2 separate regions of the Homo sapiens genome follow, and region 1 is linked to region 2. Evidence: fine-mapped expression QTL. A gene starts in region 2. The other region holds a variant in brackets. All regions are shown on one strand. Distances are between the middles of the regions.

Region 1 (4,387 bases), 71 kb before region 2:
TTTGAGACCAGCCTGACCAACATGGTCTCTACTAAAAATAGAAAATTAGCTGGGCGCGGTGGCATATACCTGTAAATCCCAGCTACTCGGGAGCCTGAGGCAGGAGAATTGCTTGAACCTGGGAGGCAGAGTTTGCAGTGAGCCAAGATCACGCCATTGCACTCCAGCCTGGGCAACAAGAGCGAAACTCCATCTCAAAAAAAAAAAAAAAAAAAAAAAAAGTCACATACTAAGGCTGGGCGTGGTGGCTCACGCCTGTAATCCCAGCACTTTGGGAGGCAGAGGCGGGCAGATCACGAGATCAGGAGATTGAGACCATCCTGGCTAACACGGTGAAACCCCGTCTCTACTAAAAATACAAAAAATAAGCTGGGCATGGTGGCGGGCGCCTGTAGTCCCAGCTATTTGGGAGGCTGAGGCAGGAGGATTGCTTGAACTTGGGAGGCAGAGGTTGCAGTGAGCCGAGATTGTGCCACTGCACTCTAGCCTGGGTAAGAGTGAAACTCCGTCTAAAAAACAAACAAACAAACAAACAAAAAGACCCCAAAAAATCAGCTGGGCGTGCAGTAGTCCCAGCTACTCAAGAGGCTGAGGCAGGAGAATCACTTAAACCCAGGAGGTGGTGGTTGCAGTGAGCCGAGATCGCACCACTGCACTCCAGCCTGGGCGACAGAGACTCCATCTCAAAAAATAAAGTCACATACTGACAGGCTGGAACCATGAAGACGAGTGGCTACATACTTTTCTCAATGACTTTTCAAAACCATCATTACAAATATAATTACAAGACTTAATAATCATTAATAGCTTTAGATAATCAGGTTGATTTATAGGCAAGTCAAATGTATTCTCAAGAGGCCTTCTTTGCCAGGGTGGTGGGAAACAAGAGTTTCGCCTCTTCATAGGCACAGCCCCCGTCTGTGTAGTAGGCAGGATGAAACCAGGGCTCCAAAGCCTTCTTTTTCCCTCCCCTCCCTACATTAATCTACCTGCTTCCAAGGAAGGACCTGCTCAAATTACCTACCAGCCCTTGGTGGTACACAGGGTTAGAGGAGTTATCCCTGGACTTAGGCAAAGAAAAATCAATGAGAGAACCTAACAGAACAAGAAAAGGCATGGATTGTCAGTGCCACAAAGCATAAACGCTTCTGCTCGTGAAATCTTGAATTTATAACAATTAGAAAAAGTATAAGCATCCTGCAAGAGTGAATTGGCTGAAAACACATCCAAAGAGCCAAACACCACTTAAAATTATTTATCTAAAGCTATTAATGATTAGTAAATCTTTTAATTATGTTTGTGATTTTTTTGTTTTGAGATGGAGTCTCCCTCAGTCGCTCAGGCTGGAGTGCCATGGTGTGATCTTGGCTCACTGCAGCCTCTGCCTCACGGGGAGGGACTCTCTTGCTTCAGCCTCCCGGGCAGCTGGGATTACAGGGGTGAGCCACCACACCCGGCTAATTTTTGTGTTTTTAGTAGAGATGTGGTTTCACCATGTTGGCCAGGCTGCTCTTGAACTCCTGATCACAAGTGATCCACCTGCCTTGGCCTCCCAAAGTGTGGGATTATAGGTGTGAGCCACTGCACCTGGCCTAATGGTGGTTCTGATGCAATTTTTATCAAAATAAAGATGCCCATCCTAGGAGAAAATCATTACAAAATGATATGCTTACTATGCTACCATTTTTAATTTAAACTCTATACACATAGATACATAGAAAAAACTAGCCAGGGCCAGGCACGGTGGCTCACACCTGTAATCCCAGCACTTTGGGAGGCCGAGGAGGGCGGATCACGAGGTCAGGAGATCGAGACCATCCTGGCTAACATGGTGAAACCCCATCTGTACTAAAAATACAAAAAATTAGCTGGGTACGGTGGCACATGCCTGTAGTCCCAACTACCAGGCTGTAGTCCAGCTACATGCCTGTAGTCCCAGCTACTTGGGAGGCCAAGGCAGGGGAATTGCTTGAACCCGGGAGGTGGAGGTTGCAGTGAGCTGAGATCGTGTCACCGCACTCCAGCCTGGCGACAGAGCAAGACTCTGTCTCAAAAAAAAAAAAAAAGAAGAAAAAAGTAGCCAGCTACACAAGTGTTTATTACTGGTTGGTGAAATCCTAAGTAATTTTATTTTTCTTTTGCCTTTTTGAGATGGAGTCTCGCTCAGTCGCCCAGGCTAGAGTGCAGTGGTG[C/T]GATCTCAGCTCACTGCAGCCTCTGCCTTCCAGGTTCAAGTGATTCTCCTGCCTCAGCTGCCCGAGTAGCTGGGATTACAGGAGCCCACCACCACACCTGGCTAATTTTTGTATTTTTAGTAGAGGTGGGGTTTCACTATGTTGGCCAGGCTAGTCTCAAACTCCTAACCTCAGGTGATCCACCTGCCTTGGCCTCCCAAAGTGCTGGGATTACAAGGGAGAGCCACCGCACCCACCCTTTCTCCCCCTTTTTTTGAGATAGGGTCTCGCTCTGTCGCCCAGGCTGGGGTGCAGTGGTGCAATCATGGCTCACTGCAGCCTTGACCTCCCACGGCTCAGGTGATTCTCCCACCTCAGCCTCCCAGGTAGCTGGGACTACAGGTGTGTGCCACCACGCCCAGCTAATTTTTATTTTTTTGTAGGGACGGGGGTCTCCTTATGTTACCCAGGCTGGTCTCGAACTCCTTGGCTCAAGCGATTTGCCCGCCTCAGCCTCCCAAAGTGTTGGGATTATAGGCATGAGCCACTGTGCCAGGCCAATTTTGTTTTTCTTAACTGTAGATTATTTTCCTAAAATAAACATGGAGGCCGGGCGCGGTGGCTCACACCTGTAATCCCAGCACTTTGGGAGGCCGAGGCAGGTGGATCACAAGGTCAGGAGTTCGAGACCATCCTGGCTAACACGGTGAAACCCCGTCTCTACTAAAAATACAGAAAATTAGCCAGGCATGGTGGCACATGCCTGTAGTCCCAGCTACTCAGGAGGCTGAGGCAGAATCGCTTGAACCTGGGAGGCGGAGGTTGCAGTGAGCTGAGATCGTGCCACTGCACTCCAGCCTGGGTGACAGAGCAAGACTCCGTCTCAAAATAAATAAACAAACAAACAAACAAATATGATTACTTGCATAAGAAAGTCAATAGTCCAAATTATCCTTTTTTTTCTTAAACATTTACTTAATGTCTTAATAACAAAAATACCAGTTTTTTTGAATAAGTGAAAATTAAACATCTATGCTCTCTTTTTGAGGAACCGATGACTTCCAAAGGTGTTTATAAAAGCCAGAACTCTACCAGCGGAGTGGATATAAGACTAAGAGTTAACAAACCACATAAAAGGTGGCCGGGGAGTGGGGGGAATCTTCCCTTTGAGACAAGGAAACAATCAGTTTACTAGGGGAATAGTGGCCTTCTAACAGGTGAAAAGAAGAAAAGGAGACCAAACAACCTGTTTCATCCTCTATAAATAAAACCTTGGGCGGCATATTGCCAAAGAAACATGAGTCAATATAAACCTTTACATACTGGGCGGCCAAACTTCACTTTTGGACAGTATATTAATTATGTAGTCAATAACCATGGGTTTCATTAGTGTATTAAATACCACGATCAATAGTATTTATACTTTTTGAAGACAGCCCACTCAGGAAACAGAAGTGGGGGAGGGGAACATTTTTGACCCTGCAGTTCAAAAAAGGAACAGCACGCGAGAGATTAGCAAGGTTTTAATGGAAAGCATAAAACACTGGAAATATGGACAGAAATCAGATTATTACCCTTTTATTTTTTTCCCTGCCCCTTTCACAATGAGACTGGAGGGAATTCAAGAACCACTTGAAATAAAGGCGAAATGATTAGATTTTTTTCTCCTAATTGCCTAACGCTGATGTCATGGTGTACGCAAAATCAACATTGATCTCTAAGTGAAAGAGGAGAAACAGAACAACATCAACAGCCTTTCGAGGTAAACTGTGGGCCAGAATCTATTTAGGCAACCCGCAGGGACCAAAATCTCTGAAAAGCCCAACAGTGGAGCCAGTTTCTGATGCTCCTCTGCTGGTGATCTGATCTTTGAGTGGGGAAATCTGTTAGAAACAGCCTCCTCGAGGGAGCCCTCCCCCTGGCACTGCCCCTGGGTTCCCAATCACATCCACGGAGACGTGCTGGTTTCATCACGCTGGCCACTGAGAAGGCGCGAGGACAGGTGTCAGCGTTCCCTGGACACGTCCTGTCCTGGTACCACGGCTGGTCAGGCCTCTTCACTGTGTGGACAGACACGTGGGGAGAGGAGGGAATGCTGGGAGTAGTAGGCATGAAAGACTGGTTACTGGGCTGAAAGCTAGATCGCCACTTCCCAGCCACAATTTGTCAATCCAGAAGAGGGTTGAAGACTGTAATTTTCTCGTCGATGCTTTATA
Region 2 (4,387 bases):
AGTATCTTGCCTCAAGTCATGCATCTAATAAGTGAATGGGGTCGTGCGCGGTGGCTCACGCCTGTAATCCCAGCACTCTGGGAGGCCGAAGCAGGTGGATTGCTTGAGGTCAGGAGTTCGAGACCAGCCTGGCCAACATGGTGAAACCCCATCTCTACTAAAAATACAAAAATTAGCCGGGCATCATGGCAGTCTCCTGTATTCTCAGCTACCTGGGAGGCTGAGGGAGGAGAATTGCTTGAACCCAGGAGGCGGAGGTTGCAGTGAGTCAAGATCGTGCCACTGCACTCCAGCCTGGGCAACAGAGCAAGACTCCATCTCAAAAAGAAAAAAAATAAATAATTCAATAAGTGAATGAACAGGAATTGGGGTCTCAAAGGGATTTAGCCTAGTAAGGGAAGTCACAAATGAGCTGAGATACGAAGATAGTGTTTGCCAGTGTGGGGAAGAGTGAAGAACCACCCAGGCAGTGGGCAGAGGGAAAAAAATGTTCAGGGCCGGGTGCGGTGGCTCACTTCTGTAATCCCAGCACTTTGGGAGGCCGAGGAGGGTGGATCACCTAAGGTTGGGAGTTCAAGACCAGCCTGGGCAACATGGTGAAACCCCCGTGTCTACTAAAAATACAAAAAATTACGCAGGTGTGGTGGTACATGCCTGTAATCCCAGCTACTCTGGAGGCAGAGGCACGAGAACTGCCTGAACCCAGAAGGCAGAGGTTGCAGTGAGCCGAGATTGCGCCACCGCACTCCAGCCTGGGGCGGTAGTGGGGGGGTATGGGGAGAAAGAGTGAGACTCTGCCTCAAAAAAAAAAAAAAAAAAAAAAAAAAGGCCGGGCACAGTGGCTCACGCCTGTAACCCCAACACTTTGGGAGGCCGAGGCGGGCGAATCACAAGGTCAGGAGATCGAGACCATCCTGGCTAACACGGTGAAACCCCGTCTCTACTAAAAAATACAAAAAATTAGCCGGGCGTGGTGGCGGGTACCTGTAGTCCCAGCTATTCGGGAGGCTGAGACAGGAGAATGGCGTGAACCCAGGAGGCAGAGCTTGCAGTGAGCCGAGATCGCGCCACTGCCCTCCAGCCTGGGCAACAGAGCAAGATTCCAGCTCAAAAAAAAAAAAAAAAGTTCAAAGGCCCCATGGAAGAAGGTAGGAGTATGGAATATACCAGAAATCTAAATTTAAAAAAAAATGTGGGGGTGACTGGAGAGGTAGGCTGAGAGTATGCTGTGGATGGGAATGGTGGCAGGAACGTATGCTGAGTGGAAGTCAGCAGCTCAGGCAAAAAAAAAGACGGTGCCAGTATGGATGGAGAGAAGCCAGTGGGCTTGATAGATCTACGCAGAGGCAAAATACACTTCACTTCGTGAGGGACTGGATGCCCAGGTAATGGACAATATAGGAGGAATGATTTCTCAATTTCTGGTTAGCACTGAACTGAATAGATAATGGTGCCATCCGTGGAGATAGGGATCAAGAGGCCCAGACTTAGAAAGATAAAGAATTTGCTTTGGGATACGTATACTGAACTTAAAACCCTCTGAAGCATGGAATAAGCAGACAGATGACGGAAGTTTGTCTTTTAGAGTAAAGGTGGCTCTGTACAAAGAAATTTGTGAGCAACTGACATATATTAATAGATGGCAATGGAATTGCCTTGGGGCCAGGCGCGGTGGTTCATGCCTGTAATTCCAGCATTTTGGGAGGCCGAGGCGGGCGGATAACTTGAGGTCTGGTGTTCGAGATCAGCCTGGCCAACATGATGAAACCCAGTCTCTAATAAAAACACAAAAAGTAGCCGAGTGTGGTGGCGCACACATGTAGTCCCAGCTACTCGGGAGGCTGAGACAGGAGACTCACTTGCACCCGGGAGACGGAGGTTGCAGTGAGCCGAGATCGCGCCTCTGCACTCCAGCCTGGGCGACAGTGAGTGTCGCCCAGGCTGGAGAAAAAAAAAGAAATTGCCTCGGGAGTCAAGAGGGCCTAGAGGGAGCCTTGATTCAACAAAAATTTACAAAGAGGGACTTACAAATAAGACGGGGATAGACCTGCCAAGCTGAGCCACTAAAAACCAAGGAAGAGGGTGTGACCTGAAGCAAGCAGGGCTTAAACGCAAACGCTGCTGAGAACTCAGGTAAGCTGAAAACGGAAAAGGGCTGGATTTAGCAACTTGGAGGCCACTGGTACCTTCAGCCAGGGTTTTCTACAGCGATCAAAGGGATGACTGGAGTGGGTTAAAGAGTTGATGAAAGGCGAGGAAAGGAAGTGGCTGAAACCAGACAAGAAGTTTGGCTGTGGGTGGGGAAAGGAGAAGAGACAGAAAGTGTCCGCAGGTGGAAGATGCAGAGAAAGGCAAGCGTTTATTTAGTTTGTTCTTACGTAGGAAAAATGTGAGCATGTTTTAAAGACGATCGAAAGAATGCTTTGAGGAGGGGGCGATGACACTAGAGGGACGCCCGGCGGGTCCCCACCGCCCCCCGCCATCTCCTCCCCTCGCGTTCATCCCCCGTCGCCCCGGGCTCCCCTCCCCCTCTCTACTCCGCGAGGCTCGGGGCCGCAGCCACCCCGGACCGCCGGCCCAGCCCCCGGCACCTCCTCACCGCAATGGCCCCCTCGCTCAGTTGGCCGACCATGGCTCCACCGCCAAGACTTCCCCGCGGACCCCGCAACAGCTCCAGCTTCCCCACCCGGGTCCCGCGCGCTGCGCAGTTATTGGCCCGAGAAGTTGCGCGCACCGCTCCCGCCCCCGACGTGCGCGCGGCTCAGGGGCGGGCCCGGGCGCTACGCAGCCGCCGCATTGGCCGAGGCGCGGCCCACGTGACCCACCCATGGTCCCAAGCGAGGCCTGGCGCGGGACGCCGGACGCGGTGCGGGGCGGAGCGGGGCGCCAAGGGGCGCGCCAGGAGCTGCGCGGGCGCTGGGAGGGAGACCAGGGCGCAGTTCCGGGCGCGTCTGAGCGGTTCTCGAGGCGTTCTCGCCTCGGTCTCTGGCGAGTGCACGGGTTGGTATCCCAGAGGAGGTTAAAGCTGTTCCTTGAGACCTCCGCTGCTAAATAGAGTCGCAGTAGTGACCCGATTCGTCCAGCAACGCGGGGCTGACTTCCCGCCTCCAAGCCCTGAGCTTGGCACCGTGGCGGTGGGGGGTGGGGGTGGGGGGTCTCCGAAAGGGAATCAGACCCGGCCCCCGTCCTTAGAGAAGAGGACAGTGTGTGGGGGCACTTTATGCCGTCAGTAACCCCACCTCCAGGTAGACGTGGTACAGGCCCCAAGGGTGTTGGAATCACAGCTGGGAAATCAGGGACGCCGTCCCGGAGGAGGTGCCATTTGAGCCGAGTCGAAGAACGTGTGGGAATTTTCCAGGTGGACTCCATAAGCCAGGGTAGGGTTGGTCCGGAAAGCATGAGTAGCCTATGCCAAAACATTGGAGAGTTGAAATAGCCTGGCAAGCCGGGGATAGCAATGAGTTGTTCAGTATGCAAGGGTGCATGCAGAGGAGTAAGTGACACCTGAGAATTAGAAAGTCAGACAAGGGTCAAGTAAGGATGGTTTTGTCCTGGGCTTCCTGGTATGCTTGGAGTAGCGTTGATGAATTTAAGGGCAGAGCACTGACTTCTGTCTCAGTGTTGGAGGCTGGATTGAAAGTGGGGAGTGGTGCCAATGGCATGGACATTAATTATAACACTCTAGGAAGAATGCCAGACGAGATGGTGAGGACTTAATCAGAACGCTGAACTATGTAAGAGAGGGAAATACCTTGTTAAATGAATAGTTGCTGGGGTGGGTGAGAAAGAAAAATCTGGGATGTGTCTCAGAGAAACTAGAGAGGGATCAGGCCGGGCGCGGTGGCTCACGCCTGTAATCCCAGCGCTTTGGGAGGCCAAGGCTGGCGGATCATCTGAGGTCAGGAGTTCGAGACCAGCCTGGCCAACATGGTGAAACCCCGTCTCTACTAAAAATACAAAAATTAGCCGGGCGTAGTTGCGCGCATCTGTAATCCCAGCTACTCGGAGGCTGAGGCAGGAGAATTGCTTGAACCTGGGAGGCGGAGGGTGCAGTGAGCCGAGATGGTGCCACTGCACTCCAGCCTGGGTGACAGAGCAAGACTCTGCCTCACAAAAAAAAAAAAAAGAGGATCTAAGAGCACAGATGGTAGCTATCTAGTCTGCTTCGTCTTTGTATAACCATCACCTGCATGGTGCCTGTGACAAAGTAGTCTTTCAGTAAATATTTCTGAATGGAAGGATGTTGAGTGAATTGCTGTGAGAAAATATAGATCCTTCCTTAGCATATAAACTAGAGGAAAAGACCACAAGAATTGATTTTATTGTTTCAGGCTTCCTTGAATGAAATCTTGATTTTCCTTTTTTTTTTTTTTCCGAGACAGAGTCT

What was found.
Region 1: its variant is fine-mapped to the expression of RPA1 in whole blood (INTERVAL, PIP above 0.99).

Annotation. Positions count from the first base shown.
Region 1 is chr17:1,898,846-1,903,232 of GRCh38, reverse strand. RPA1 (replication protein A1) reads right to left here. Exons shown (of 17, transcript NM_002945.5): 17 at 3,151-4,387. Among named protein-coding and RNA genes, the nearest start is that of RPA1, 71 kb to the right of the region's middle. The variant C/T (reference allele first, on the strand shown) is at 2,193.
Region 2 is chr17:1,828,339-1,832,725 of GRCh38, reverse strand. It overlaps RPA1 (replication protein A1), which reads right to left and starts at 2,721. Exons shown (of 17, transcript NM_002945.5): 1 at 2,600-2,721. The coding sequence starts at 2,632. It overlaps SMYD4 (SET and MYND domain containing 4), which reads left to right and starts at 2,824. Exons shown (of 11, transcript NM_052928.3): 1 at 2,824-3,000. RefSeq lists an enhancer at 1,325-1,825 and a silencer at 2,453-2,972.